7 separate regions of the Homo sapiens genome follow, and regions 1, 2, 3, 4, 6 and 7 are each reported to be linked to region 5. The links are microRNA targets in miRTarBase. Many come from high-throughput screens and were not tested one by one. Region 5 holds a microRNA gene; each other region holds the end of a gene's coding sequence.

Region 1 (4,079 bases), not on the chromosome of region 5:
CCGATTTGGTGTGGCCAGTGGGGATAGGGCAGAGGGGAGCCCACATTTTCATCTGGAGTGGGCCCCCCGCCCCGTGGAACTCCCCGAGGTGGAGTATGGGAGACTGGGGCTGCAGCCGCTGTGGACTGGGGGGCCAGGAGAGCGGCGGGAGGTGGTGGGCACCCCAAGCTTCCTGGAGGAGGTGCTGCGGGTGGCTCTCGAGCACGGCTTCCGACTAGACTCTGTCTTCCCCGACCCCGAAGACCTGCTCAACTCCAGGTCTCTGCGCTTTGTCCGGCACTGAGGATGCTGTTCTCAGTTTGACTGTGGGGAGGAGAGAGAATGGGGTACTAGCACCCCTGAAGCCTCTTTCCAGCTCTGCTTCAGGAGCTATGAGAGTCGGGACTCTCCTGCACCTGACTGGAGCTCAGATGTGGGCAGGAATTCCCAAACCTGAGCCCACCAAGGACTCACAAGTGGTCCAGAAGGTCTCAACCTGTGCTGACCCTGGGAGGGGTAGGGAAGGTTCTCTCAGCTTGTTCTTGCCTAAGGCTGAGCACCTCCAGTCTCTCCTTGATTTGGAGCTCAGTGTTTAAGGGCTTGGAAAAGGGGGGAACATCTCTTTACCCAGACTAGACCTAGCAAAACCCTGGAAGGATATTGAGGTCTGGGGAAAAGGGAGGACTTTGCATTTTCCCAATGCGGTCTCTTGGACCATGGCTTCTACTCCTGAAGCTGGGTGGCCTGGCCTGGCCTGACCAATGAGAGGCCAGAACACTCTGGAACATCGGAAGAGGAGTTCTTTGCTATGTTCCAAGCCATCTACTGAGGGAGGCAGAAAGGCCACAACCCACCCTAGGTTGATGTATGGGAGCTAGGACAGTCCCCATGGCAATGGGGCTGGAGCATCCCTCATCTGGAAGAATCCCATACTGATGGCAGGGCTGGCCAGGGGGAAGAGGGTAGTATCTGTGGGTCCTGGCCTTTCTTCATGTGTGCGTGCATATCAGCCCGTGTGGCTGACTGATGTATAGGTCCCTGGCATCCTGGTTCATATCTGTGTTGCTGACTACAGTGTCTGTGATGTCCGCATGTCCAGGCCTGTTTGGGGTTGCCTAGCGACTCTTCTGGCACAGGGTGTGTCTGTGGTATACCTGTGAGGTGGTTGACAATTAGTAGTTTAATCACAGGGTGTGTGTGTGTGTGTGTGTGTGTGTGTTTATGTGCACGCATGTATATGCATCACCACGTAGCCAGGAGGGGCCTGTTGGGGTTTGAGTCACTGGGATCTTCCTGGTGAGAGGTAAGAGAAGTCACTGGGCTTAGCTGGGCCTCTGAGGCCTGTATGGAACTCTTGGTTGCTGAGGCAACCATGGACCTGTTGCTAGGAGATAGCTGGGGAAGGCCCAAGGCCGCCCAGGGCAGAGAGAGGAGACGAAGAGTTTGGGACAGTGGGGGAGGAGATGGGAAGGGATGGGATTTCTGGGTCCCAGAGCGGGTGGGATACTCACGCACAGCTTCTTCACTGGTGGGGGGTGGGGCACACATTATTTCTCACTGGTCATGATTTACAAGAAGAAAAATAAAACTGCTTTTGGAACCACAAACTTGTGAAGGCTGTTGAGGGCCAGGTTGGGGGTGCTGTCCCCTCACAACAGAAGCCCTGCTTTCTCTGCCCATCGCCTGCTGGAGATGCCTTCTGGACCCCAGTTCCTTGAGCCCCAGCTTTACCCCAGCTGAGGATGGGCAGTGCCATTGTTCATTGTTCTGGAACATTCTAGAACCTCCAGGCAAGGGCTGGAGCCAGGGCTGCAGAGCATTCCTCGGCTCAGCTGGGGCAGCGCCGCCCCATCCCCCAGTGGTCCTCATGTGGAGGCTGGCACTAGGCGGGGTTTTCCTGGCAGCCGCCCAGGCTTGTGTCTTCTGTCGCCTCCCAGCCCACGACTTGTCAGGCCGCCTGGCTCGGCTCTGCAGCCAGATGGAGGCCAGGCAGAAGGAATGTGGGGCCTCCCCAGACTTCTCGGCCTTTGCCTTAGGTAGGACCAGACATCCAGGGATGGGCCCAGCAAGCACTCACCCCCCTACCCCCAGAGGGTGGCATGTGACCTTCCAGCTGTGCCCTCCATCTGTGGCCCTTTCTGGACATGCTGGCCTTTCCCTCTGAGAGAGCTCCATATCTGGGAAAGTCAGGAGAGACCCCAGAACCTGGGCTGATGAGGGAATCGCTGGTCCTTGCCCATCTCCACAGATGAGGTGTCCATGAACAAAGTCACAGAGAAGACTCACAGAGTCCTGAGGGTCATGGGTGAGGTCAAGGGGAAAGAGTGACCTAGGGGCTTGGGAGGATACCAAGGAGAGGGACGGGTGACAGGGGTTGGGGTGGGCAGGGAAGGGTGGAGGGGTAGAGACAGGAGGGCTGATCAGGGAGGGGCTGCGTGAAGAGAGGGGGAACTGGCCCCGTCGAGGCCCAGGGAAACGGAGCTGCTGTCTGCCTCCCCAGAAATCAAAGAGGCTGTCTCCTCACTCCCTTCATATTGGAGTTGGCTTCGAAAGACCAAGCTCCCTGAGTACACCAGGGAAGGTACCGATGCGGGATGGGCCTCAAGGGGAGCCTAGGGTCTTAACCAAAGGAATGTGTGGTGAGCAGCTCATCCATTCACACCCCCACCCCTTCCTTGTCTTTCATTTCAGCTCTCTGTCCCCCCGCCTGCCGTGAGTAGGAAAGGAAAGGGGTAGCAAGGACCTGGGGCCTGCAGGGTGTCAGAGGAGGGCCTGGCAGCTGCAGGAGGAAGCTGGGTACCAGGCAGGGTGGAGGCCCGGCCTCCCCTCCCCAGCGTTGCCTCTGCTGTCTCCTGCAGGGGGCAGCACCACGCTGTACAACTGCTCCACCTGCAAGGGGACGGAGGTGTCCTGCTGGCCCCGAAAGCGCTGCTTCCCAGGTCCTCACGCCCATCTTGGCCCCGCCCCACCTTGCCCAGATCCCTGAGCCCTTGGGCTCCCAAGTCGGTGCGTGTGGGTCCCAGAATCATTCACTGCCTCCTGGGTTCCCTGCAGGAAGTCAGGATCTTTGGGAAGCCAAGATTCTGCTCCTCTCCATCTTCGGAGCTTTCCTGCTTCTGGGTGTTCTGAGCCTCCTGGTGGAGTGAGTTTTGGGATAAAGACAGGAATCCTACCCCGCCCAGTGCCTTCCACCACCCATCCTCCCTCCCTCTGTCCCTCCCAGGCCCCTCCCGTAGGCTTCCCACCCTCGTCTTCCCTCAGGTCCCACCACCTCCAAGCAAAAAGTGGCTTGTGAAGACGCTGAAAACCTCCCAGCCTCCAGCTCTAAGGGGTATGCACTCACAACTTCCACATCCCTTGGAGGGGAACCAGTCAGCCCCTTAGTCCCAGCTCCAAAGACAGTCTCCAGACCCTAAAACCCAGACATCCCTGCTTCTGGTTGGTGAGATAATGAAAAACAAGAAAATCCCCAAAAACCCAGATCCCCCACAATCCCAGTGTCAGATGGCCTCCCGGGAACCCAGGCACCCACAGCTGGAAAGTTCCTCCCCTCCAGCCCTCAACCAATCACATGGCTGTCAACAATGCCAGGAAAATATCTACAGAAGGAAAGAATCCCCTACGCCACTCCCACCACACCCACACCCCCTTCTGCCTGTTCCGGGAAAGCGGGGGCATCTGCCCCAGAAGCTATTCCAGGCCCTCCTATGACTGATGGGGAATCCGGGAATGCATGTTCTGGAAAACTCACCCCACTAGAGTGAGATCACATCAGTGGGTTCGCGGGCATGCCCTCCCTCCATCGTGTTAACAGTTTGAAATCCTGGCCTCCCTCAGAGGCCTCCATCCTGCCAGGCCTAAGTAAAACTTGCTGTTCATGGCCTCTGCCCCTGCCTAGCCTCTGTCTGCAACTGGGGAGGGCAGAGGAAGGATGGGAGACTCTCAGAGTAGCACAGTGCTTCTCAGATGGGGGTGATTTTGCACCCCAGTAGACATTTTGCAACATCTGGAGTCGTTTTGGATTGTTTTAACTGGGGGGACGTGCTACTGGCCTCTGGTGGGTAGAGGCTAGAGATGTTGCTAAACATCCCACAACACAC
Region 2 (4,000 bases), not on the chromosome of region 5:
GCAGGTGTGAGAACCTATGTCAGTACCATCAGAATTCCCATTCGTAGAATCTTAAATACTGGTTTAAGTGAGACTACATCTGTTGCAATTCAGACCATGTTAAGGCAGATAATGACAGGTTTTGGTGAGTTAAGCTATTTTATGTACAGTGATAGCGACTCAGAGCCTACTGGCTCAGTCTCAAATCGAAATATGGAAAGGGCAGAGTCACGGAGTGGAAGAGGAGGTTCTGGTGGTGGTAGTAGTTCTGGTTCCAGTTCGAGTTCCAGTTCCAGTTCGAGTTCCAGTTCCAGTTCAAGTTCCAGTTCCAGTCCTAGTTCCAGTTCCGGTGGTGAAAGTTCAGAAACTAGCTCAGATTTATTTGAAGGCAGTAATGAAGGAAGCTCATCATCAGGCTCATCAGGTGCCAGGCGAGAGGGTCGACATAGGGCCCCAGTCACATTTGATGAAAGTGGCTCTTTGCCCTTCCTTAGCCTGGCTCAGTTTTTCCTCTTAAATGAGGATGATGATGACCAACCTAGAGGACTCACCAAAGAACAGATTGACAACTTGGCAATGAGAAGTTTTGGTGAAAATGATGCATTAAAAACCTGTAGTGTTTGCATTACAGAATATACAGAAGGCAACAAACTTCGTAAACTACCTTGTTCCCATGAGTACCATGTCCACTGCATCGATCGCTGGTTATCTGAGAATTCTACCTGTCCTATTTGTCGCAGAGCAGTCTTAGCTTCTGGTAACAGAGAAAGTGTTGTGTAATTAAGATCTGAACTCTCAGCTATGTAGCTGATATAGTGATGGGCAAACAGGAATCACTTGCTTTTATGTCCACTTTTTGAGTGGTACTTAAATGTAAAGTAACAACCTGAATTGAGTCATTGCTTTCTGAAGGAATCATTGTCCTTTCTCCAGTTTTTGTTCCAGAATAAAAGGAAATATTTTAAAAGCCACGTTATAGGACCTAAAAATCTGATTTCCGTACCAGTTAAATTGGTAGCATCACTGTTACTGATAATTTATCATATACACTTGTCAATTTTTCCTTTGTTATCTTAAAAGATCTGCCTTAGCAATGGCTCCTTTTTCATGTTGATCTTTAAATTTTCCCACACCATAAGAGAGGAGCAAAGGAAATTACCAGTTTAGACTAAGTTACAGTATGTGTTTCATAAGTGATTAAAGCTATATCATTCCCAGTTATTAGTTAACACAAATTCAGCCACATTCTGAGTATTGTTTGTTCACCTTTCAGACTTGGTGATACTGGACATGTCAGTGTAAATAACACTAAGGTTAGGATCTTCTAAGTGTATAACTGTCTCCTAAGCCCATCACTGTGGCACACTGTAGAGTGAGCTTATAGTTTAATTGAGATATTTATCTTGTGGAAATATTAAAAAGCCTATGCTTGTGTAAGTGAAAAAAAATCACATTCATTTGTTTAAAAATGTAAAGCTATTTTGTAGAGGCTCAGTACTTTTCCAATGCACTGTTGTATGAATGCATTAAAAATTGTAAAGTACCATGCTTAGAACTGAGAAAACTGCTTTTTGTGAGCCAACATAGTAACAAACACACCAAACAAAGTACAAAGCTGCTTTTGTAAGTGTGTAGATGTCAAGAGCAGAACATATCTATAATATTTAATGTGTGAACAGCTACTGTGACATGCAAAGGAAAGGACAGTGCAGAATTAAACCGTGTTGAAGACCAGTGGAAATTGTATAATTTAACTTGGATTTAGGCAGGAAGTGAAATATGGGAGGAGTAAAGAAAACTGAAGAATTTAAAGTTTTCCTGAAGACAGTAATAATGCAGACACAAACTGGTTTCATATGGTGAGAGCAGCCACAGCAGCAGCTTGACCTGGTATTCTACCTGAGTAGATGAAGCAGAAGATCAGCAAGTTTGGCAGAGTTTTGGTTTAAGAAAAACAAACCACTACTACCTAGCACAAGTTAAATTTACAAGTCTGCTCCTCAAAAATGAAAAAATGGAGGAAAGAGACTATAAAACCACTTTTAGCATATGAATTGCAGTTGGTACACATGTGTGTGTTAATAGGAAAGTCTCGAATTTGTGTTGTTTTTGAGATTTGTCATTTAAGGTACCAGTGCACACTTGATCATATTTCATTACTATCTCTAACACAGTCCTAACATCTCAAATTTAAAGACCAGTTGAAGATTAAGGGATTTTTATCCTTTGTTGAAAGTCATGTTGGGTTATTTGAAATTCAAATTTTAATTGTGCTGCCCATATATGAAAATGAGACTGCTGACTCGCTATCTATGGACATGCACTTTATGTTGGTTTCTTAGTAGTAAGAGTAACTTCATGATAACCCCAGTCTTCTTGCCTAATTTCTTTTTTGAGACTAGCTGGGGTTAGGATTAGAATGACTATGGAGCAGATATTTGTTCTTCTGGGAAAAGCTTTAACAGGCCAAAATAGGGATTGAACTTGTCCTTGGCCTTTATCAAAGCAAGCTAGCTACCCAGACGTAGTCAAATACTCTACAAAATAAACAAGTCTGCTTTAGGAATTGTCTGGGTACCTTCACTGTTACCAACTTAGCTGTAAAGATTATTTCAAAGCTCACTCTTCCATGATTTCTTCTGGCTTTCAATCCTATCTAAGTATCAAGGAAATTAACTTGTAAATATGGTAGTTGTTTACTAAGGATATGTACTGCTCTTGCAAGGAAATAATGTCCAAACAAAGCTTCACTTATTTTTTTTAATATAAGCAGATTTCACTGTTTATGGCGCTTATGTAATACATTTTATCTTTTTAAAAATTTGTCCGTGTAAAAGTCAGGATTCCTTTATATTTGTGAGCCTCCTTTTCTCCTTTCCTAAGGATGTAATCTACAGTTTTCAGATCTGCAGGGTAGTCTTGATTGGCTAAAAACAAATCAATTTTCTTCTTGGCATAAAGTGTTTCATTATTATAGGGGTGTTCATTTTAAATAGTTTAAAAACAATTGCAGCACATTCTAAGCATAAGAGAAAGTTATTGACAACAGGTACCTTCCTAATCTCCCAAGACGTACTTACTCATTTGTGAAGTATTAAAGTAAGAGGTAACTCAAGCAGAATGCTGGCTATGAATGTAGATATTGAAGCTATTCATAAACACTGGAAATAGAATTTTAAGCTTTTAGCCTTCAGTGGAATGCACATATTGGACATGTGCATGTGAACACCTTTTTCAGTAGCACTCACGGATTTCCATTCGATTGTATAGAATGAATACAAGTGTTTTAGTGGAATTTGCTACTTAATTTTTAATCTTGCGATGTCCGTGATTATTACATGCTTACTAGTGTTGTGGACATTGAAGACAAGGTCATTCGTAGGTGTCAGATTACAATGGAGAACAAAAATCGTTTTCCCCCCACCCACATCCAAACACCATTCTCGAGGGAGCATTTCTTGCAAAACACCTTACATTTCATTTTCTATCTTTGCACTTTTTCTTAAGTACAGAAAAGTTGTCTTTAAGACCTAGTTTGAACTTCATGCAGTAAGAGGAACAAGGATAAACAATGTTGGGAGTTCACATTGTTCAGAGCATAAGGAAAAGTACCAAAACCCAAATTTTCTTGAATATTTCAGATGTTTTTAAAAACTCACTTCTAGTCTGAAACATTTGAATTGTTTTAACTCTGAGCAGCTGACAAAGTTGAGGTTTTTTTGTTTTGTTTTGTTTTGTTTTGTTTTTTTGAGACAGAGTCTTACTTGGTTGCCCAGGATGAAGTGCAATGGAGCGATCTCGGCTCACTGCAACCTCTGCCTCCTGGGTTCAAGCAATTCTCCTGTCTCAGCCTCTCGAGTAGCTGGGATTACAGGCGCATGCCACCACACCTGGCTAGTTTTTATATTTTTAGTAGAGATGGGGACTTCACCGTGTTGGCCAGGCTGGTCTTGAACTCCTGACCTCAAGTGATGTGCCTGCCTCGGCCTCCGAAAATGCTGGGATTACAGGCGTGAGCCAC
Region 3 (4,068 bases), not on the chromosome of region 5:
AAAGTCATTGCATTTCCAAAATTATTTTCTTACTCTTGATATTTCTGTTATTTTTTAAAGTTCCCAGATCTAACATTTTTACTGTTGTTACTTCTTTCTTTTTACAGGTTTATCAACTTATGAGGAAATGCTGGGAATTCCAACCATCCAATCGGACAAGCTTTCAGAACCTTATTGAAGGATTTGAAGCACTTTTAAAATAAGAAGCATGAATAACATTTAAATTCCACAGATTATCAAGTCCTTCTCCTGCAACAAATGCCCAAGTCATTTTTTAAAAATTTCTAATGAAAGAAGTTTGTGTTCTGTCCAAAAAGTCACTGAACTCATACTTCAGTACATATACATGTATAAGGCACACTGTAGTGCTTAATATGTGTAAGGACTTCCTCTTTAAATTTGGTACCAGTAACTTAGTGACACATAATGACAACCAAAATATTTGAAAGCACTTAAGCACTCCTCCTTGTGGAAAGAATATACCACCATTTCATCTGGCTAGTTCACCATCACAACTGCATTACCAAAAGGGGATTTTTGAAAACGAGGAGTTGACCAAAATAATATCTGAAGATGATTGCTTTTCCCTGCTGCCAGCTGATCTGAAATGTTTTGCTGGCACATTAATCATAGATAAAGAAAGATTGATGGACTTAGCCCTCAAATTTCAGTATCTATACAGTACTAGACCATGCATTCTTAAAATATTAGATACCAGGTAGTATATATTGTTTCTGTACAAAAATGACTGTATTCTCTCACCAGTAGGACTTAAACTTTGTTTCTCCAGTGGCTTAGCTCCTGTTCCTTTGGGTGATCACTAGCACCCATTTTTGAGAAAGCTGGTTCTACATGGGGGGATAGCTGTGGAATAGATAATTTGCTGCATGTTAATTCTCAAGAACTAAGCCTGTGCCAGTGCTTTCCTAAGCAGTATACCTTTAATCAGAACTCATTCCCAGAACCTGGATGCTATTACACATGCTTTTAAGAAACGTCAATGTATATCCTTTTATAACTCTACCACTTTGGGGCAAGCTATTCCAGCACTGGTTTTGAATGCTGTATGCAACCAGTCTGAATACCACATACGCTGCACTGTTCTTAGAGGGTTTCCATACTTACCACCGATCTACAAGGGTTGATCCCTGTTTTTACCATCAATCATCACCCTGTGGTGCAACACTTGAAAGACCCGGCTAGAGGCACTATGGACTTCAGGATCCACTAGACAGTTTTCAGTTTGCTTGGAGGTAGCTGGGTAATCAAAAATGTTTAGTCATTGATTCAATGTGAACGATTACGGTCTTTATGACCAAGAGTCTGAAAATCTTTTTGTTATGCTGTTTAGTATTCGTTTGATATTGTTACTTTTCACCTGTTGAGCCCAAATTCAGGATTGGTTCAGTGGCAGCAATGAAGTTGCCATTTAAATTTGTTCATAGCCTACATCACCAAGGTCTCTGTGTCAAACCTGTGGCCACTCTATATGCACTTTGTTTACTCTTTATACAAATAAATATACTAAAGACTTTACATGCATATGCCTTTTAATATTAAGATTTCATTTTCAAAGCATTTCAAACAATTTGCTTACATAGAAAAATAACAGTATAGTTTTGGGGGGAGGAAGGGGTGGGTTACGGTCCTTACTACTAACAAACAAACAAACACCACTTGATTTGCACTTCTTCACTGTTGTGCCCAGTGATTGATAACGGGGCACAGGCCAGTATGGATGGCATGTCCACTGTGCTGTAGTCCAGACACCTTTGTTTGTTTGTTTTAGTTCCTTCAACCTCTTCCTGCTTTGACTGACTGACTTTTTGCAGCTCTGTTGCAAAATTCACCATCTTTCCTTTCTTCTGTTTGTTTGTTTGTTTGTACTATAGTGGAGGTGTGACTAAGCATTGAAGAGGCTGAATGCAACAGGAAAATGGGAAAGAGAAGTGCAGGGCCTGAAAAACCCATTAGTCATCTGCTATATCACTGAATGATGCCTAATTCTTATCAGTTACTTATAGGTAGTATACTTAGAAATTACCTTAAACTTTCTAGCTGTCAGTCATTTTCCAACAGAAGCTAGTATATGCAATAAATTAGACCAAGTGAAATTCTTTACAAAGCATACAACATATGTACCAATTCTAGACTTCATAATTAAAACAGGATATCCACATCATAGTTAAAAATAACAAGTCCCCAAAGTGACGAGATATTTAATGATCTGATTTCAAAAAGCCCCGGATTGAGATCCCAAATTCCCTATCAATTAATTACAGTCTTATAACATAAACAAACTTAGAAATTTCTAGATGGCAAAAGGTTTCTCATGCATTTAATACCAAGGTCTTCAAGAAATGGTGATGTCAAAAGTCATCATAGTCCATAAAGATAAAACTTCTTTCACAAGTAAATTGGGTTAAATAACTGATTTTTCACCCTAACACACTATCAAAAAGAGTGAGAGAGAAAGCAGAGAGTGAGGTATAGCTTATTAGCTCAAAATGGTTATAAATACTGTGACTCCTTAAGACTCCATCAGAAAGTGCAGTATTGACTGCTTTACTATACTATATTGTGGAAATAATAGGGCATTTAGTGATCAAAATAGGCCCCATTCTAGTCATTAGATCATTACTAGTCTACGCTATGAAATGAGCACAGAAACCCATGTTCCTTTCCACTTACAAGTCTGTCTAAAGGCTAAAGGTCTGTCTTTAGGTGAATTGAAAGGAATAGTTGCTATTAGAATTAGTGCTATTAGATCAGGGATCAGCAAACTATATATAAATGGCCAGATACTTGAAATTTTAGGCCATATGGTCTTTGTAGGCCATACAGTCTCTGTTGAAGCTAATCAGTTCTGCCCTTGTAGCGTAAGAGTGCCACAGACAACACGTAAATGAATGAGCATGGCAACGTCCCAATAAAAGTTTATTTATGGACACTGAAATCTGAATTTCATATAAATTTCATGTCATAAGTTTTCTTTTTTCCTCCAACCATTTAAAAATGTAAACATTAGTCTTAGCTTGCAGGCAGCACAAAAGCGGGTGGTAGACCAAATGTGGACCCAGGGTGTAGTTTGCCAAACCCTTTTATTAGATCACCAAAGTTACTTTTCTTAAAATACCTTCTATTTTTCACAGAAGGTATAAATGGTAAACAACATCTTAAAGCATCGGTAGTAGTGGATACCTTGGATATCACTGTCACTCTCTTACCGGGTTTAATTTTGCATGGCTGGTGTGGGCGTAATTGAGTGTGCATGTAGAGCATCTTTATAATATTACCATCAGCACATTTGGTACTTGCACCCTTGTAGTTCTAGGAAAAGTCCTAAAAATCTATAAATGCAATTACTTCTAGGGAAAGTAAATTGAAATGCACATTGGCTTATAAGAAACTCATTCTTCTAAGGCTCAGGAAACAACACTGTTTCCCATTTATTGCTTCAAACTTCTTTTATATATGGTGTCAGAATTATTCCCAGTCCTAAATCAAGGAATATTGGAACATTGTTAGTTTCTCCAATGGATTGTAAGTTAGCACACTGATTAAGATGCATCTGACTCTAGTGGAAAATGTCCTCAATTGATGTCTCTTCTTATTGCTATTTTTTATTTGGCATTTCTGCCTGCTGCACAACACAGTTCCTTCTGGGAAACTATAAACCCGTATTTAAAGGATATGGCTAGTTTGAATGAAGTTAAGGCAGCGATGAACAGCAGAGATACTGCAGAGAACCTTAGGGGGTTATTAGGAGAGAGCTTAACTCAGTATACTCGCTTCTTTTTTAAGTAAGTTTCCATGTAATATGCTCCTGTGCCCTGAGAATGCTGGTCAACACATTCCACTGAACCACCTTCTGGGGCAGAGATGAGATATGATGAGCCTCGCTTTTCATTTCTTAAAGATGACACCTATGAGAAAATAAAATTGCAGCTAGTTTTAAAATCTAAAGTTGGCTTATTCATTAAAGATATTTATAAGAAAAGCATTCCACTTTGACTTGGTGAATATAGAATAACAGGATAAATACCCAAACTATCAAAAAATACACAA
Region 4 (4,079 bases), not on the chromosome of region 5:
CGCGGTGGCTTGCGCCTGTAATCCCAGCACTTTGGGAGGCCGAGGCCGGCGGATCACGAGGTCAGGAGATCGACACCATCCTGGCTAACACGGTGAAACCCCGTCTCTACTAAAAATACAAAAAATTAGCTGGGCGTGGTGGCGGGTGCCTGTAGTCCCAGCTACTTGGGAGGCTGAGGCAGGAGAATGGCATGAACCCGGGAGGCGGAGCTTGCAGTGAGCCGAGATCACACTACTGCACTCCAGCCCAGGCGACAGAGTGAGACTGCGTCTCAAAAAAAAAAAAATTATATGCACAAATATGGGCATCGCTGGTAAGAAGAGTGGCAAAAACACAAGTGGTTCTCTTGTTTTGGGCTCAGACATGTGACTGTGGCATCACAGGCCCCCGGGATTTAGAATTCTTCTGAAAGGCATCCTGTGCACTCCCGAGCACCAGCTTGAACAGATGAAAAGGCTGAGCTGGAGGGGCTGGGACACAGTCCACCTTGACGACAGCTGCTCCTGGCTGTGCGGGGGGCCCCAGGAAAGGCCGTTCCCCCACTAGGACCGCCAGGCCCTACAGAGGCTCAAACTCCTTTGCTGTTTGGAATCTTCCCTCCCCAGCCCCCAAGCCTCATCAGAGGCTGCCTTTTCTGTTCACTGACCACAGCTGCTTTGACTCCATTAGCCTCGAGCTCCTGGAAGAAAAGAAAGAACCTTGTTTTCCCTGGGCTCAATGCCAAGAGACCATGGGCAGTTGCTCAAGATTCACTTGTGAAACTCCGGATCTCAGGAGGAGGGAAGCTTGGGACAAATACCGAGCCTCCCACCCCCACTCCAACTCTGTTACTGAGCACTTTACGGAAGGAGCAGGTAGGCCCCGCCACAGCTTCATCAAGGGTGGACTGGGATAGCTTCTGTGCTAATACAAACATCAGGCCTCCCTGCCAGACAGCCCACCCCATGGAGCCAGCCTGGCACCGGGCCAGCCTCCAGCCATAACTGCAAAAGAGCAGGAGAGCCCGGAATAGCAGGCCCTCTTCAGCGAGCTTCAGCCGCTTTGCCCATAGGCTGCAGGGTTTGGGTCCGCTGCCATAAATAGCTCCCAGACCATCTTTGGTAATATAGGCCTTTGCCTTAGTATTTACTACATCCAAATAGGCTTTATAGTAAGAGTAGTGAAACAATAGGTTTTGTTTTGTTTTTCGTTTTTTGTTTGTTTGTTTCTTTTTTGAGACGGAGTCTCACTCTGTCGTCCAGGCTAGAGTGCAATGGCACAATCTCGGCTCACTGCAACCTGCACCTCCCAGGTTCAAGCAATTCTCCTGCCTCAGCCCCCCGAGTAGCTGAGATTACAGGTGCCCACCACCATGCCCGGCCAATATTTTGTACTTTTAGTAGAGACGGGATTTGGCCATGTTGGCCAGGCTGCTCTCAAATGCCTGACCTTGTGATCCACCCGCCTTGGCCTCCCAAAGCGCTGGGATTACAGGCGTGAGCCACTGCGGCTGGCTGTGATAGAGTTTTTGAATCCTCTTTTTTTTTTTTCCCAGAGACAGGCTCTCACTCTGTTGCCCAGGCTGGAGTGCAGTGGCACAATCATAGCTCACTGCAGCCGCGACCTACTGGGCTCCAGTGAACCTCCTGCCTCAGGCTCCTGAGTAGCTGGGACTACAGCCACCATGCTCTGCTAATTTTTTTTTATTATCTAGTGTAGAGACAGGGTCTGGCTATGTTGCCCAGGCTGCTCTTGAACTCCTGGCCTCAAGCGATACTCCTGCCTCAGCCTCCCAAAGTGCCGGGATATCCGGCATGAGCCACTGCACCTGGCCAAGTTTTTAAATCTTTCAGTCACAGACTAAATAAAACAGTCACCTACAAGTTCTACAAGTTCAGCCTTTTTTTTTTTTTTTTGAGATGGAGTCTCGCTCTGTCACCCAGGCTGTAGTGCAGTGGCACGATCTTGGCTTACCACAACCTCTGCCTCCCAGGTTCAAGCGATTCTACTGCCTCAGCCTCCCAAACAGCTGGGAGTACAGGCGCCTGCCATGCTGGCCAGCTAATTTTTTTGTTTTTAATAGAAACCGGGTTTCACCATGTTGGTCAGGCTGGTCTTGAACTCCTGACCTCAGGTAATCTGCCTGGCTCGGCCTCCCAAAGTGCTGGGATTACGGCGTGAGCCACCATGCCCAGCCTAAGTTCAGCCTTTCATGCTTGTCTTGAGTTGTCCAATACTGGAAAATGCCAGCTCACACTGATGAGAAGCTCCTACTCTTTGGGGCTACCTATGAGCCCACTTTGAAATCCCGAGGTTGAAAGTCCTGAACATGAAAGATAAGCTGTCTGGCAAGTTAGGATGGGCATTGATGGAGAAATGCCTTACAGCTTGAGTAGTACTTTTTCACCTAACCACTTAAACGGTTATTATAAAATGGGACACTGAGAAATTAGAAGAGTGACTTAATCCCACCTGCTCAATTGAAGCTCCTCTGATAGGTGAATTTAATTAGGAAATTGTTACTTATGGTATCAATTACATGGTCAGCTCAAGCCTCAAATTCAGCTGACTTTAGTTTCAAAATCAACTGCAATTTTGTTTTTTAAGGAGCCTGGGGTCTTGCTATTGTGCTCCAGCCTGGCCTTGAACTCCTGGTCTCAAGGGATGCTTCCACCCCAGCTTGCTGAGTATCTGGGACTGCAGGCACGTGTCACTGTGCCCAGCTGTTTTTTTTTTTCTTCTTTGGTAGAAAAAGTGCCATTAGCTGTAATCCTACATTAAAGAGAATACTTTGACAATAGATTCGTCTCTTCCTTTAGCCCCCTCCAACCTTCCAGATAAAACCCCACCCCAAAGAACACAGGCAAAGAAGATACATCAGCCTCAATAATTTATTGCAAACTCCCTAATATCACATGCTAGTGCGCTTGCGAATTCACTCAGGAATGTTCCGGGATGGGGGCCAGAAGGTAGAGAGCACCATGAAAGTACAGCCTGCGAGGCCAGATTGCTAAGGGGCAGACTTCATGCCAATGGAGGGACAGACTTCAGGACCAGTCTGGATGGGCTAAGCTGCCTTGGGCAGGAAGGAGCTGGATCAGGCCAGGAGCTTGAGGTTCTCCTTTGGCCAACCCACCCCAGGTTTCCAGCTCCTCCTCCTCACTCAGGGTCCTGCGCGGTGAGGGAGGTGTGGGGAGGTTCGCGGCTCTACAGCTGCCAGGCTTGTGGGCACTACCAGTTAAGCGTGAGGCCCCCAGTCAGTCCTTCACTGGGGAAAGCTTCCAAGGACTTGGGCTTTCACTGCAGTATCTTCAGACAGGTCGGGATAAGGGATGAGGCCTTGCCCTTGGGGGGCTGCCCTTCCTCCGTAGCATCGAGGAGCTGCTGCAGGTAACAGGAGGTGCCAAGCAGTACGTGGCCTGTGGCCTGCATGCTGAAGAGGGCCCAGCGGAAAGCTTCCCTGGGTGGAATGAGAGGGCACGCAAGTCAAAACCACGAAGTAGGTCGGGCATGGCGTTCACGCCTGTAATCCTAGCACTTTGGGAGGCCATGGAGGGCGGGTAACCTGAGGTCAGGAGTTTGAGACTAGCATGGCCAACATGGCGAATCTCTGTCTCTACTAAAAATACAAAAACTAGGCAGGCATAGTGGTGGGTGACTGTAATCCCAGTTACTCCAGAGCCTGAGGCAGGAGAATCGCTTGAACCCAGGAGGCGGAGGTCACAGTGAGCCGAGGTGGCACCACTGCACTCCAGCCTGGGTGACAGAGCAAGATTCAGTCTCAAAAAACAATCAAACAAAAAACACAAGGCTGGGCTTGGTGGCTCATGCCTGTAATCCTATAACTTTAGGTGGCCGAGGTGGGTGGATCATTTGAGGTCAGGAGTTTGAGACCAGCCTGGCCAACATGGCGAAACCCCGTCTCTACTAAAAAATACAAAAAATTAGCCGGGCGTGGTGGCAGACACCTGTAATCTCAGCTACTCGGGAAGCTGAGGCACGAAAATCACTTGAACCTGGGAGACAGAGGTTGTAGTGAGCTGAGATTGTGCCACTGCACTCCAGCCTGGGTGACAGAGTGAGTCTCTGTCTCAAAAAT
Region 5 (4,079 bases):
GCTGAGTTCCAGGACAGGGGCACACAGTCCCGATGGAAGCATCCAAAATGGAATCTACAATGTTGAAGAATATACATTGTCTCACACACAAACATCCTCCAAGATAGACCACAGTCTAGGCTGACTCTACAGGACCATTTGAGATTAGGGGTGATGGCTCACAGCTGTAATCCCAGTACTTTGGGAGGCCAAGGCTGGTGGATCACCTGAGGTCAGGAGTTTGAGACCAGCCTGCCCAACATGGTGAAACCCCATCTCTACTGAAAACACAAAAATTAGCTGGGTGGGGTGGTAGGCACCTGTAATTCCAGCTATCTGGGAGGCTGAGGCAGGAGAATCACTTGAACCCGGGAGGCCGAGGTTGCGGTGAGCCGAGATCGCGCTATTGCCCTCCAGCCTGGGCAACAAGAGCGAAACTCCGCCTCAAAAAAAAAAAACAAAAAAACAATAATAATTAGCAAGACCTGATGGCAGGCAACTGAATTCCCAATGATTCGGCAGGCTGAGGTGGTAGAAACACTGGAACCTGAGAGGTGGAGTTTCCGGTCAACAGAGATTCTGCTACTGCACTCCCAGTGAAACCAGAGTGGGTCTCAAAAAATCAAAAAATAAAAAGAGGACCACTTGAGCCCAAGAGATCTCGGTTGGAGGTGCCACCCACTCTAGTCTGGGCAACAGAGACACTGTCTTGGAAAAAAAAAACAAAACAAACAGAACCCCAACATCATGCACGTCTGATGATAAGCACGCTCTGCAAATGTGTTACCAAGATCAGCAGCATCTTCAACGTTGATTTTCTCAAACAGTAACACTCTAAAAGGATGCACGATCTTTTCTTAGACAACAGACAGTGCTTCCATCTAGAGGGTCACTGCCTGAGATCTTCTTGCTCCAGTACTCTGGGTTATTTTTTATGTATTTATGTATTTATTTATTTATGTATTTATTTTTTGAGATGGAGTCGCCCAGGCTGCAGTGCAATGGTGTGATTTTAGCTCACTGCAATCTCCTTCTCACGGGTTCAAGAGATTCTCCTGCTGCCGCCTCCCACGTAGCTGAGACTACAGGTGTGTACCACCACGCCTAGCTATATTTTGCATTTTTAGTAGAGAGGAGGTTTTGTCTTGATGGCGGGGCTGCTCTTGAACTCTGACCTGAGGTGATCCACCCGTCTCGACCTCCCAAAGTGCTGGGATTACAAGCGTGTGCCACCGCACCCGGCCTATTTTTTATTTTTTTGAGATTGAGTCTCACTGTTGCCTAGGCTGGAGTTCAGTGGTGCGATCTCAGCTCACTGAGAGCTCAGCTTCCCGGCTTCCTGTGATTCTCCTGCCTCAGCCTCCTGAGTAGCTGGGATTACAGGCGTGTACCACCACCACACTGGGCTAAGTTTTGTATTTTTAGTAGAGATGGGGATTCACCATGTTGGCCAGGCTGGTCTCAAACAACTGACCTCAGGTGATCCTCCTGTCTTGGCCTCCCAAAATGATGGAATCACAGGTGTGAGCCGTGGTACCCAGCCTTGTCCTATACTTAAAATTAGGAACAAAAAAAGATGCCCACACCTAAACAGCAAATCATTTGTTGTTCAAGTACATCTCAAATACATTGTTTATCTGAAATAGAAATTTAAGTGGGGGTGGGGCATGAATCAAAGAACAGTCCTTACTTTCCTCTTCCTGTACATGAGTTAATATTCACATGTAGTCCCAGCTACTAAGGACTGGGGAGGGCCAGAGGCAGGAGGATCTAAGCCCACTTTAGCTTGGGCGGCATAGTGAGACGCCCGTCTCGTTGCATATACGACCTGGTCATGCACCCAAGATTTCAGCTTCATTTCCCCAATGAAAACTCAAACCCCATGCACTCCACCTCCATGCTCTTGCTGAGCAGTACACATCCCATCTGCAAGGGACATTGGGGTCCCCTTCACCTCTACCTGACCCCAAGTGAAGTTCCATAAACCAGTGCCAGAATAATTTCTGTGGGGTAAAAGGTGTTGATGGCCAGGCGCGGTGGCTCACGCCTGTATTCTCAGCACTTTGGGAGGCCGAGGCAGGCAGATCACCTAAGGTCAGGAGCTGAGTTCAGCCTGGCCAACATGGTGAAACCCCATCTCTGCTAAACATTCAAAAATTAGGCCAGGCGTGGGGGCGCATACCTGCAATCCCAGAAAGAGTCAGAGGTGGGCGGATGACTTGAGGTCAGGAGTTTGAGACCAGTCTAACCAACATGGTGAAATCCCATTTCTACTAAAAAAAAAATACAAAAAGTAGCCAGGTGCGGTGGTGTGCTCCTGTAATTCCAGCTAGTCAGGAGGCTGAGGAAGAATTGCTTGAACCCAGGAGGCAGAGATTGCAGTGAGCCGAGATCGTGTCACTGCCCTCCAGCATGGGTGACAGCGAGACTCCGTCTCATAAATAAATAAATGAATTTTTAAAAATACAAATATTATCCAGGTGTGGTGATGGGTGCCTGTAATCTCAGCTACTTGGGAAGCTGAAGCAGGAGAATCGCTTGAACCCAGGAGGCGGGGGTTGCGGCGAGCCGAGATCACATCACTGCACTCCAGCCTGGGTGAGAGAGAGAGACTTTGCTTGCAAAAAAGGACCATTTGAATCCAAGAGGGCTAGGTTGGACATGCCACTGCCACCGCACTCCAGCCTGGGCAACAGAGATCCTGTCTTAGAATGAAAAAGCAAAACCAAAACAGAACCCCGCCATTGTCCAAGCCTGATGATAAGCATGCTCTGCAAATGCATCAACTTCAACGTCGCTTTCTCAAACCGTAATCCAGCAAAGGGAAGCGCTTTCTCTTCTTTTAGACAACAGAAAGGGCTTCCCTTTGCAGACCCACAGCTTGAGATCTTCTTGCTCCGGCACTCTGGGTTTCTTGTTGAAATTTTCCTTAACCAGTTCAAAACGGACACAAATATAAAGATGCATGTATTGGCCCTGTTTGCAAGTTTTCTGGAATCCAGAATATAAACCCCTAAAAGACCATCTCCAGTTCCTTCCTTCAAAGAATCAGCAGGTTAGCCTTGTTCATCAAGGGGCAATCCTTCTGAGTTTTGTCCCCAAAAAGAAAAAGCAATGCCCACTAGACATACCTTATCTCTAACCAAGAGACTTGGGCTGGATTTCTAGAGAACAGCAATGGATTTTCAGCCAACTCTCACTTGAGTTCCAGCACAGGGACACACAGTCCCGACAGGAGCATCCAAAGTGGAATCTATGATGTTCAAGAACATACATTGTCACACACACAAACATTCTCTAGCATAGACTGTAGTCTAGGTTGACTCAAGAGGACCACTTGAGGCTAGGCGTGGAGGCTCATGCCTATAATCCCAGCACTTTGGGAGGCCGATGCAGGGAAATCACTTGAGGTCAGGAGTTTGAGACCAGCCTGGCTAACATGGTGAACCCCCATCTCCACTAAATGCAAAAACTGAGCCGGGTGTGGTGGCGCATGCCTGTAATCCCAGCTACTCGGGCTGCTGAGGCAGGAGAATCGCTTGAACCTGGGAGGTGGAGGTTGCAGTGAGTCAAGATTGTGCCATTGCATTCCAGCCTGGGTAAGAAGAGCAAAACTCTGTCAAAAAAAAAAAAAAAAAAAAAAAAAGGGGGAAATACAAATGCCCACACCTAAACAGCAAATCATTTCTTGTTCAAGTACATCTGAAATATACTATTGATCTGAAATACAAATTTAACTGGGTATCCCTGGCCTGGGAAGCTGCCTTCGGCAATTCAGATAGGAGTCTCCTTTGGAAGCTAATAGGTAGGAACATGGAGATGTCAGCAAAGGGAAGGGACTCTCAGGGATTTCTATGGATTATGCAGATGCCCTGCCAGATCCCAAACTTCCCCAAAAGATCCCAAGTCCAGGCAGAAAGGACCACTGGGGTCCAGAAACCAAATGTCTTGGCTCTGGGCGGGAGTCTTTGTCATCAGATTCCATGACTGAAAGACAGCCAGGAGCAGAGCGAAAATCCCAGGGGTTCTCTCTACCAGAAGACACAGACTCCGTCCAGATCAAACCCAAATTGTCGCCAGTTAGCGATGCCTGGCTCTCC
Region 6 (4,079 bases), not on the chromosome of region 5:
CATTTTGTCCCCTTTCAGTTGGTTACTGTATTTTCCCTTTCTTTGAAATGTAGTCATTCTTAACCCAGTAACCTTCCTATACAATCTGTACAGGTACATGAGCAATTTCAAATTTTATTTGGATTAAGTGTTTTTTATACTGAGGAACTAACTGTTCTTTCCATTTTATATCTAGCTTTTAGTATCACAGATCTACTTTTTGGATTTTTTTCCTCCCCTTTGATTGCAAAATGAATGGCAATATCATGCACTTTGTTGGGATTCTTTTTTAGTAGTATACAATGCATTCTCTTTGCTATGAGTAACCCCTGAAGCTGGAGATGGGTCCTAAATAAAGGATTCTAATTGCAGCTTTGGTTCTTCATCATACCTCCTTCCCCACATCAGCACGTGCAGAATTGAAAAGTTCAAACCTGACTGCCATTTGAAAAAGGGACATTGCAAATTTGTTTTCATTAACTTTGTTATCAATACATGTAGCCTGTGGTGTTAAAAATTTTAAAGGGAGAAAGAGGCAATTAGCATGAAATGTTCAAATGAATGGTTTGTGGTGCCTTTGACCATGCATATGTTGTTTTGGGAGGTCAGCTTGTTGGCTCTGTTGTAAGGTTTTAAATGGATTATCCTGTGAAAGAGATTGGGTATAGTGTTTCTCAGGTGTACAGAAGAAAAAAGTTATTAAACCTGACCATTCTGAGTCTCGCCTTACATTGTTTCAGGTATGATTAACAGTGTCAATTTAAAGCACTCAGCCACATAGCAGGATGAAAAAGTTAATGTAAAACTAATCCACCAAATAGAAAAATTTAATGTGGTTCTACTTTGAAGCAGAAATGGACTTGAGGGAAACTATTAAGCAAATTGAAGGACATTGCTCCTAGGTGAAACAATCCAAGTAATGTGGTAATTAGTACAGATTGTACTCCATACTGAGGCTTCAAGTACCATGTCTTAAAAGATGAGTGAGATACATGTGTCATAAGGACTTAACTTCATTTAGCCCCATCCACCCAACCAAACAAGTACCAAGAGGTGGTAGTTTTTACAAAGTCATTGTCCTTGCCTCTTTCAAATGAGATGGGTTGCTCCTCAGAAGAAAGTAGTTTTGTTTAATCAAAGTGATTGAGGATATCTGTACTCCCAAACTTTGCATAGGATTTAAAATACCATCTAGGCCGGGCACGGTGGCTCAGGCTTGTAATCCCAGCACTTTGGGAGGCCGAGGCAGGTGGATCATGAGGTCAGGAGGAGTTTAAGACCAGCCTAGCCAACACAGTGAAACCCCATCTCTACTAAAAATACAAAAATTAGCTGGGCATGGTGGCGAGCGCCTGTAATCCCAGCTACCCAGGAGGCTGAGGCAGGAGAATCGTTTGAACCCAGGAGGCAGAGGTGGCAGTGAGCCAAAATTGCACCACTGCACTCCAGTCTGGGCGACAGAGCTAGACTCCGTCTCAAAAAAAAAAAAAAAAAAAAAAAAAAAGTTTGGTACTGTTTGTTTTTGAGCTAGGGCTTTTAAAGAGGTGGTATGTCAGGATCAACAAGTTAGATCTTGGTCTCTGAGGGTGCTGATAAATACCTAGGTTGGTTTATCCCTGCCCCCCGCACGCCCCCCATAACCTCATTCCCTTGATTGATTATAATGTATACTGAGGTAACTTTATTTAATAATTTTACATTCTGTTAAATTTTTTTTTTTTTTTTGAGAGGAAGAAGTCTCACTCTGTCACCAGGCTGGAGTGCAGTAGCGCGATCTTGGCTCACTGCAACCTCCGCCTCCTTGGTTCAAGCGATTCTCCTACCTCAGCCTCCCAAGCAGCTGGGACTACAGGGGCATGCCACCACGCCTGGCTAATTTCTTTTTGTATTTTTAGCAGAGACAGGGTTTCACTGTGTTAGCCAGGATGGTTGATCTTCTGACCTCGTGATCTGCCCGCCCTGGCCTCCCAAAGTGCTGGGATTACAGGCGTGAACCACTGTGCCCGGCAACATATTCTGTTAATATATTTAAAAAGCATTACCACTTATGACTGGAAAGAAAAAAAAAGTTCTCTCCAGAAGTATCTGTCTTGTCTTTTCCCCTCCCAGAATGAGTATTTTTGCTTTTACCTTAATGTTTGAGGGGGGAAATGAGTACATATGAGATCCCAATAAGAAACCAATACAAAAAGTTTATACTGAGCTAAAAAAAAAAAAAAAAAGATACCTTGACTATGAAATTTTAAGGTTATTTTTATTTACAACTTTTGAAAAATGTACATTTTTTTTTACATGGGTTACTTGTGCAAAGTTAGATTTGGAAGTGATAAATGCATAAAAGGTGACAATAGAACATTAGACAAAACATTTACAAGCCTTGTCCCATACTGCTACTTAAAGGTACTATATATCTAAAAGTATAAATATCCAAAAAAAGATCGCAGACATTGGCTTTAAGGTTCTCAGATGCTGAAAGGGAAGAAATTAAAGCATGCAGCAATAACTCAGGATTTGAGTGGAAAATAGTTTGCCACAGATATGCTATGCTCCCTTCCTTGAATTCATTAAAACTCTAAAATAAAGATGGACAATTGAGTTTATTCACTTAGGGCAGCACTGATCCTTTAAAAAGATTAAAGGAGCTCCAACTTTCCCTAGCTCAAAAACTCACGATTGTTTCCATTCCTCTGCTCCCACACCTCTTTTAAAAAGCAAAAACCCAGAAGACCAATAATTCTGAAACTTGGCATGAGTGTGCCCAGTCAGCAGCTTGCAAAGAGAGGATGTGTCAGTTACTACAATTGCTGTACTCCTTTAGCTGAGTCCTTCAACTTTCTCCTTCTTGCCAGTAAATACTACGTTGTAATTCATATGACTGAGATCTTAGTATCACAGGATTTTTAGCTCCCATGCCTCCTTCAAAATTGTTTACATGGATTTGTTTCTATTCTCTGTAGGCCATATTCCAAACACATTCACTTCTAAATCCAACACAAGTGAAGGACCAGCCAGGATGAAACACTTCAGCAATCATTTTGTTAAAAATAACATCCTGGTCATCAAGCTAAGCATAAGCACCTCTTGTATAACAATTCATCTTAAAAGCTTAAAGTACAATAATAAAAATAACTGCCTGAAAACTGGAAATGAAATACAACAGAAAAACTGAAGCATTAGTAATTTTTGCAAGTAACCCAGGTACAGTACATTTGATTTCATAGAGGGTGTTTTCTGATGTTTAAGGAGAGGGTAGAAGGGGTAGGAAAACTTGGCAAGGAAGATGGAAACAGCACAACAGTTATTTTGCTTTTAATAAAGTAAATGTAATGACAGGAGTAGGGAGGTGACAAACACATCAATATATATTTTTCTTATGGCCAGCTTCTTTAAACTGTACCCGGGGTCAACAATCACGCCAGCTTTGTTCTACTATTGCAGAAACACGCTTTTCATATTCCCGTTTGTTCTCCTGGTACAGCTGAGCAGCCTGGCTGTTTGCTGGACTATTGGGATTGGGTTCATCCAACAGAGACTAAAGAGACAATTTTTAAAATGTCAGTTCCTTAATGCAAAACAACTATTTTATAAGGTAGTGACACTCAATTGAATTGTCCTAAGTACAGCTACATTTCTTGTCTTTAGCATACAAACCCAGAGTTATGTGAATCTGCTAGTAGCTAGGAAAATATATGCGGCTTTTTTTTTTTTTAAGGGAGAAGAGTCTCACTATGTTGCCCAGGCTGGTCTCAAACTCCTGAACTCAAGCAATCCTCCCACCTTGGCCTGCCAAAGTGCTGAGGTTACAGGTGTGAGCGACTGTACCCAGCTGACTTGGGTCTTAATGGTCTACTTTTCATCTATAAAACAAACAAGCTTTGACCAAAAATAAAAAGATCTATTACATTATGACTTTCAAAAACAATTCAATTGCTAATATAAACATATTAAAAGTTATAGTTCGTCACATTAAGGAAAAATTCACCTGTATGGATGTTAGAATGGAAGACACATCATAGGTTGGACTCCAACGGTTCTGAAGTATGTCCAGACATATACTACCATCTGCATAGACTAAGAACAAAGAAGTAGGTACATTAAAC
Region 7 (4,079 bases), not on the chromosome of region 5:
AACTAAAACAAGAGCTTTAAAATCATAAATCTGTGTCCATTGATGTATGAAAGGATAAGCAAAATGTGGTATATACATACAATGGAATATTATTCACCCTTAAAAAGGAAGGAAATGCTTCAGTGTTCTACGTTGGATGAACCTTGAAGACATTATGCTAAATGAAATAAGTCAGTCCCAAAAAGACACTATTATTCCATTTATATAAGGTAGAGTAGTTAAAATCATAAGAGACAGAAGATAGAATGGTGGTTGCTAAGGTCTGCAGGGAGGGGGAATGGGGAGTTAGTTACTGTTTAATGGGTATGAGTTTCAGTTTTAAAGATGAAAAGAGTTATGGAGATGGACGGGGGTGATTGTTCCACAACATTACAAATGTATTTAATACCACTGAACCGTATGCCTAAAAATGGTTAAGATGCTAAATTTTGTTGGATTTTACTACAATTTTAGAGAAACTGTAAATACTTGAAAATATTACTGATTTTACTAACAAGCTGGATGCAACAGGTAACTCAGGCGTGTCAGTGGCAATCACTCTTTTCCCTCAATTTATACAGGTGTCTTTAATACATCTGGTGGAAGTCACTCCGGTCAGAATTCAGGTACCCTCAATGGTGGAGATGTCATCAATCTTAGACCCAACAAACAAAGGACCAAGAAAAACAGAAATCCTTTTAGCAGCTGTAGCATACCCTAAGATGTTTTGGGAGGAAAACAATTGAATTACATTGTGCAATGCATTAAGAAACCCATCCAGCTGTCATGGTATGTTACAAGGTTTTCAGCAGACTTTGCTCCTAATGGCTCTCTGAAAGTGACAGACTTAAATATTGCTCTGCAGTGCTTTTCAGAATGTAGAGTGAGACCTCTGGTGGAAAAATTATTGCCCTGTGGACTCCTTTAATTTTTTTTACATTAGACGAAGCTTCTCCTGTTTGTAAAGGAATGCTATAAGAAATTTCAAACACAGGTTTTGCGGAATTTTAAATGCTGGAAAACATAAATGAAATGCCTAAATATATTGTTACAGATTTTAATACTGTGGATCAAGGAAAGATAGCAAGCATTCTTTTCCTGAAATTGGTCATGTAGCTTTTCTGCGAAATAGTATTGAATCTGAATACTTTCACAAAATAATACTGAAAGGTAAACCCTAAATCTTGCCAGACTGCATTAGTATTTTGGCATTGAAACTTGTGCAATATCTGTGTAATGTAGAATGTGGGGTGTGCATGCAGATGTCTGGTACTGGAGTAAGCTGAAGGTATGTGCAGTATTTAAGAAAATGTACATTCTAATTAATTCACTTATAAAACCATTTACATATTGTGTATATGTTTTTATTTTCAAATGATAAACTCTAGACATATATTTTGCAAAATGAGCTTGGGTTTAAAAAGTGCTTTGTGCCAAAAATATCATACCTAATTTTTATAGTGCTTTACTATCAGAATTTATATTGTTTATTATATCTTTTAAAAGCAGTAAGCAGTTTTCATCTGACAGCGTAGATAAAAGAGGAGTATAGGAATTTGAATGCTAGAGCATCTCCCAGGTGAGCCTTATTGCAGATCTTTTTGATATAGTCACCCATAAGCATGGTGAGCTCCTGCTCTCATAAGGTCAGCCAAAGCCCCTTAAGAAGGTACACAGCACATCTGCAGTCATTCAGGAGGTCCTGTGAAGTGTGGTGATGCATCTAACACCTTTTGCTGCTCACTGAGAACCCAGCTTTGAACTTACAAGATTACACTAACCATTTTTAAAGTGCACAAAAATATTATTATTAGTCTTAACTAAAATTACATATTTTATAATGCCCTGCAACTCTAAACCATCCTTTTGTTTACACATTTTTGTATGGTATTTTAAGATTATCAATCACTTCAACATTTCTATAACCTTGTTTGTATAGCACTTTCTCAAGAGCTGTCAGTCCCACATACAGAATCATTTCTTTTACAAAATGATTTAATATGTAATCATGTGTCAGGACATAAATTTTGTCACTTGGGACAGTAGCTTTCCAGCTAAGATAATTGCGTGAACTCTGTTAAAACTGATTATCACTCATCAATGGCTTTATTTTTAACCTATAAATAACCCCTTTCAATATACCTGGTTTTTACAGCATTGCAAAATCTGTAAAAATAACTTTTATTGGAAAATGTCATGAAGTCATTTTTCATTATTTGTACTAAACAATGTTTTATGTACTCCTTTTGTGTTTTATCTTTTGTTTTTCCATCTGTACTCCCCTCATCCTCCTAATGTTGAGAAAATCAAATTTCCTGGGTGTGTCCTTGTTAAGTGATCAAAAGTAAATGTTCTCTTTGCCATTTTAGATGGAAAAATAAAAAAAATTAAAAAGTAAATTTTTGCTTTTCATTATATTGAAATGATCTGGCATTATCTATTTCACAGTAATGTAAAATGCTTATTTTTATGTCACCAGTTGTCACCACTCCCATTGCTGATAGTGACATAGGTTTTGGGGGCAAAATTCAGTTCCTAACAAACAGTGGATACTGCTAATGAGTCATCTTTTCTACTCTCTTCAATTTTCTACTCTCTACTCTCCTCTTTAATTTTTGCACAAAATAATACTTTGCAACAAATAGTCTTTTGTCTTTATTGGCAGAAAAATCACTTGTTATATGTGTTCTAGTTAGTTCTTTTTCATGTTAGCTGTGTGGCTAAAAGCGTGTTACCTTTCTATATTTAAAAAAAGTAATCTCTGAGGATAGTTACAGTTCCTGTAATATAATTTTATGTACCTAGTTTTATCTTTTTTTAAATAAGAACTGAAGAGAGAGCTTTGTTACATATTTGAATTTTTAATTTGCACTGCTGTATTTTAAACCTAACCATAATTAGTCATTTAAAATAATTAAGTAGGCCTGAAAGTCAGCCATGTTAATTTCTCAATTTAATCAATTCTTAAAGCCTTCAAAAATTGACATTTTTTTTCCAAGACCCTTCATTCTCTTAAATAACTTTAATTTTATGAAACCATGTATACTAAAGAAAAACTTTTCCAAGATTCCAGGTGATTGTGCATTTGTGCTCTAATCTACTTTTTTAACATTACGGCTAATCTTTTGCGTAGACATATCGCTGTGGAATAACTGCCATATTTCAGAGTTCCTCAGGTTTCCTTTTCCTTTTCCAGTCTCTGTCTATGAATTAAATAGTATATAGAATGACCCATATAAGGCAATATAGTTAAATAAAACCAGGTTAAATGATTTCCTTTGTATCTGCCCAAAGTTGATAGCACACGTTACTTTTTCAAAATAAAGCTAAAACTACCAAAAAGAGGATGAAAACTTTTTCCTCATTATGGAGTGAAGTTCTAGGTGGTTGCTTTAGAAGTTGGCAGTGCAGTGCTCAGAAGGAACTCTCAATAAATAACATGTACTCCTTGGACCTGTGAGTTTTAGGAAACTGGACCTTTTCTGAAGACCTTAGAATAGGGAGTTGGCCTTAGGACCTAATGTCCCAACTTAGTGTTGGACCCTTTTAATATAAGATATTGTTAATTATTAGCATACTTTTCAAAACCTTTGAAATAGTTACTGCTAACCTGATAAAATGTTCCCATTAATCTATCATTAGTCTGTTTCTCTGAAAACAAAATGCATTGATGAGGTGAAAGCTTGTTCCACATGGCACCTACCTAATGAACAGGACTTACTCAGTTTTTAACTGTTAAGAATGTCACATGTACTATTGTCACTCCTTAGGTTTTCAGCTATAAAACATGTAAGTCTCTCATCATACAGATGAATTCATTTGCTAACAAAATATTTAAAACCCGCAGTAGACTCTGAAATATCCAGTCATCAAACTCCTGGCTAACTGGATGATTTGGCTATAATAATCTTTATTATTATTATTTTCATCTGTCTCTCGAAATATCTACAGTAGGATGTTAGTAAATGGTCTTTTAAAAGCAAAAAATTGGGGATAAAAGGAAAACTGAATTCCTTCTATATTTTTATTACTAATAAATAATGCTTTTGTAAATTTGAATGGAAAACCACTTGTATGTATTGCTATTTGGTTGCAGTTAC

What was found. Region 5 holds the annotated microRNA hsa-miR-527 (CUGCAAAGGGAAGCCCUUUC, at 2,832-2,851, opposite strand). A microRNA usually pairs through its seed, bases 2 to 8, with sites in the 3' UTR of a target mRNA and lowers its output. Matches are read on the target gene's strand: a 7mer-m8 pairs with bases 2 to 8, a 7mer-A1 pairs with bases 2 to 7 and ends in A, and an 8mer does both.
Region 1: the mRNA of KCTD11 is a reported target of hsa-miR-527. Seed matches in the 3' UTR shown: 7mer-m8 at 664-670.
Region 2: miRTarBase lists RLIM as a target of hsa-miR-527. Seed matches in the 3' UTR shown: 7mer-m8 at 3,468-3,474.
Region 3: miRTarBase lists RAVER2 as a target of hsa-miR-527. Seed matches in the 3' UTR shown: 7mer-A1 at 1,838-1,844.
Region 4: miRTarBase lists CIDEC as a target of hsa-miR-527. Seed matches in the 3' UTR shown: 7mer-A1 at 2,875-2,881.
Region 6: miRTarBase lists UBE2A as a target of hsa-miR-527. Seed matches in the 3' UTR shown: 8mer at 2,750-2,757 and 7mer-m8 at 2,284-2,290.
Region 7: miRTarBase lists RAB23 as a target of hsa-miR-527. Seed matches in the 3' UTR shown: 7mer-A1 at 1,376-1,382 and 8mer at 2,610-2,617.

What each region holds. Positions count from the first base shown.
Region 1 is chr17:7,353,359-7,357,437 of GRCh38, forward strand. KCTD11 (potassium channel tetramerization domain containing 11) reads left to right here. Exons shown (of 1, transcript NM_001363642.1): 1 at 1-1,586. The coding sequence ends at 283. TMEM95 (transmembrane protein 95) reads left to right here and starts at 1,798. Exons shown (of 7, transcript NM_001320436.2): 1 at 1,798-2,015; 2 at 2,228-2,284; 3 at 2,480-2,560; 4 at 2,671-2,691; 5 at 2,838-2,918; 6 at 3,034-3,121; 7 at 3,241-3,861. The coding sequence starts at 1,847. The coding sequence ends at 3,274. RefSeq lists enhancers at 1,339-1,865, 1,866-2,392.
Region 2 is chrX:74,588,199-74,592,198 of GRCh38, reverse strand. It overlaps RLIM (ring finger protein, LIM domain interacting), which reads left to right. Exons shown (of 4, transcript NM_016120.4): 4 at 1-4,000. The coding sequence ends at 759. Among named protein-coding and RNA genes, the nearest start is that of RLIM, 24 kb to the left of the region's middle.
Region 3 is chr1:64,830,697-64,834,764 of GRCh38, reverse strand. RAVER2 (ribonucleoprotein, PTB binding 2) reads right to left here. Exons shown (of 12, transcript NM_001366165.2): 12 at 1,533-3,926. The coding sequence ends at 3,780. JAK1 (Janus kinase 1) reads left to right here. Exons shown (of 25, transcript NM_002227.4): 25 at 108-1,536. The coding sequence ends at 203. Among named protein-coding and RNA genes, the nearest start is that of RAVER2, 88 kb to the right of the region's middle.
Region 4 is chr3:9,863,857-9,867,935 of GRCh38, forward strand. CIDEC (cell death inducing DFFA like effector c) reads right to left here. Exons shown (of 7, transcript NM_001321142.2): 7 at 2,858-3,440. The coding sequence ends at 3,278. Among named protein-coding and RNA genes, the nearest start is that of CIDEC, 14 kb to the right of the region's middle. RefSeq lists a silencer at 229-523.
Region 5 is chr19:53,738,120-53,742,198 of GRCh38, reverse strand. MIR518A2 (microRNA 518a-2) reads right to left here and starts at 2,866; the gene lies at 2,780-2,866. It overlaps MIR517C (microRNA 517c), which reads right to left and starts at 886; the gene lies at 792-886. LOC124904765 (a long non-coding RNA gene) reads right to left here and starts at 3,360. Exons shown (of 6, transcript XR_007067334.1): 1 at 3,111-3,360; 2 at 1-54.
Region 6 is chrX:119,582,559-119,586,637 of GRCh38, reverse strand. It overlaps UBE2A (ubiquitin conjugating enzyme E2 A), which reads right to left. Exons shown (of 6, transcript NM_003336.4): 5 at 3,962-4,050; 6 at 2,215-3,511. The coding sequence ends at 3,383. Among named protein-coding and RNA genes, the nearest start is that of UBE2A, 10 kb to the right of the region's middle.
Region 7 is chr6:57,187,082-57,191,160 of GRCh38, reverse strand. RAB23 (RAB23, member RAS oncogene family) reads left to right here. Exons shown (of 7, transcript NM_016277.5): 7 at 561-4,079. The coding sequence ends at 700. It overlaps BAG2 (BAG cochaperone 2), which reads right to left. Exons shown (of 3, transcript NM_004282.4): 3 at 1,328-4,079. Among named protein-coding and RNA genes, the nearest start is that of BAG2, 17 kb to the right of the region's middle.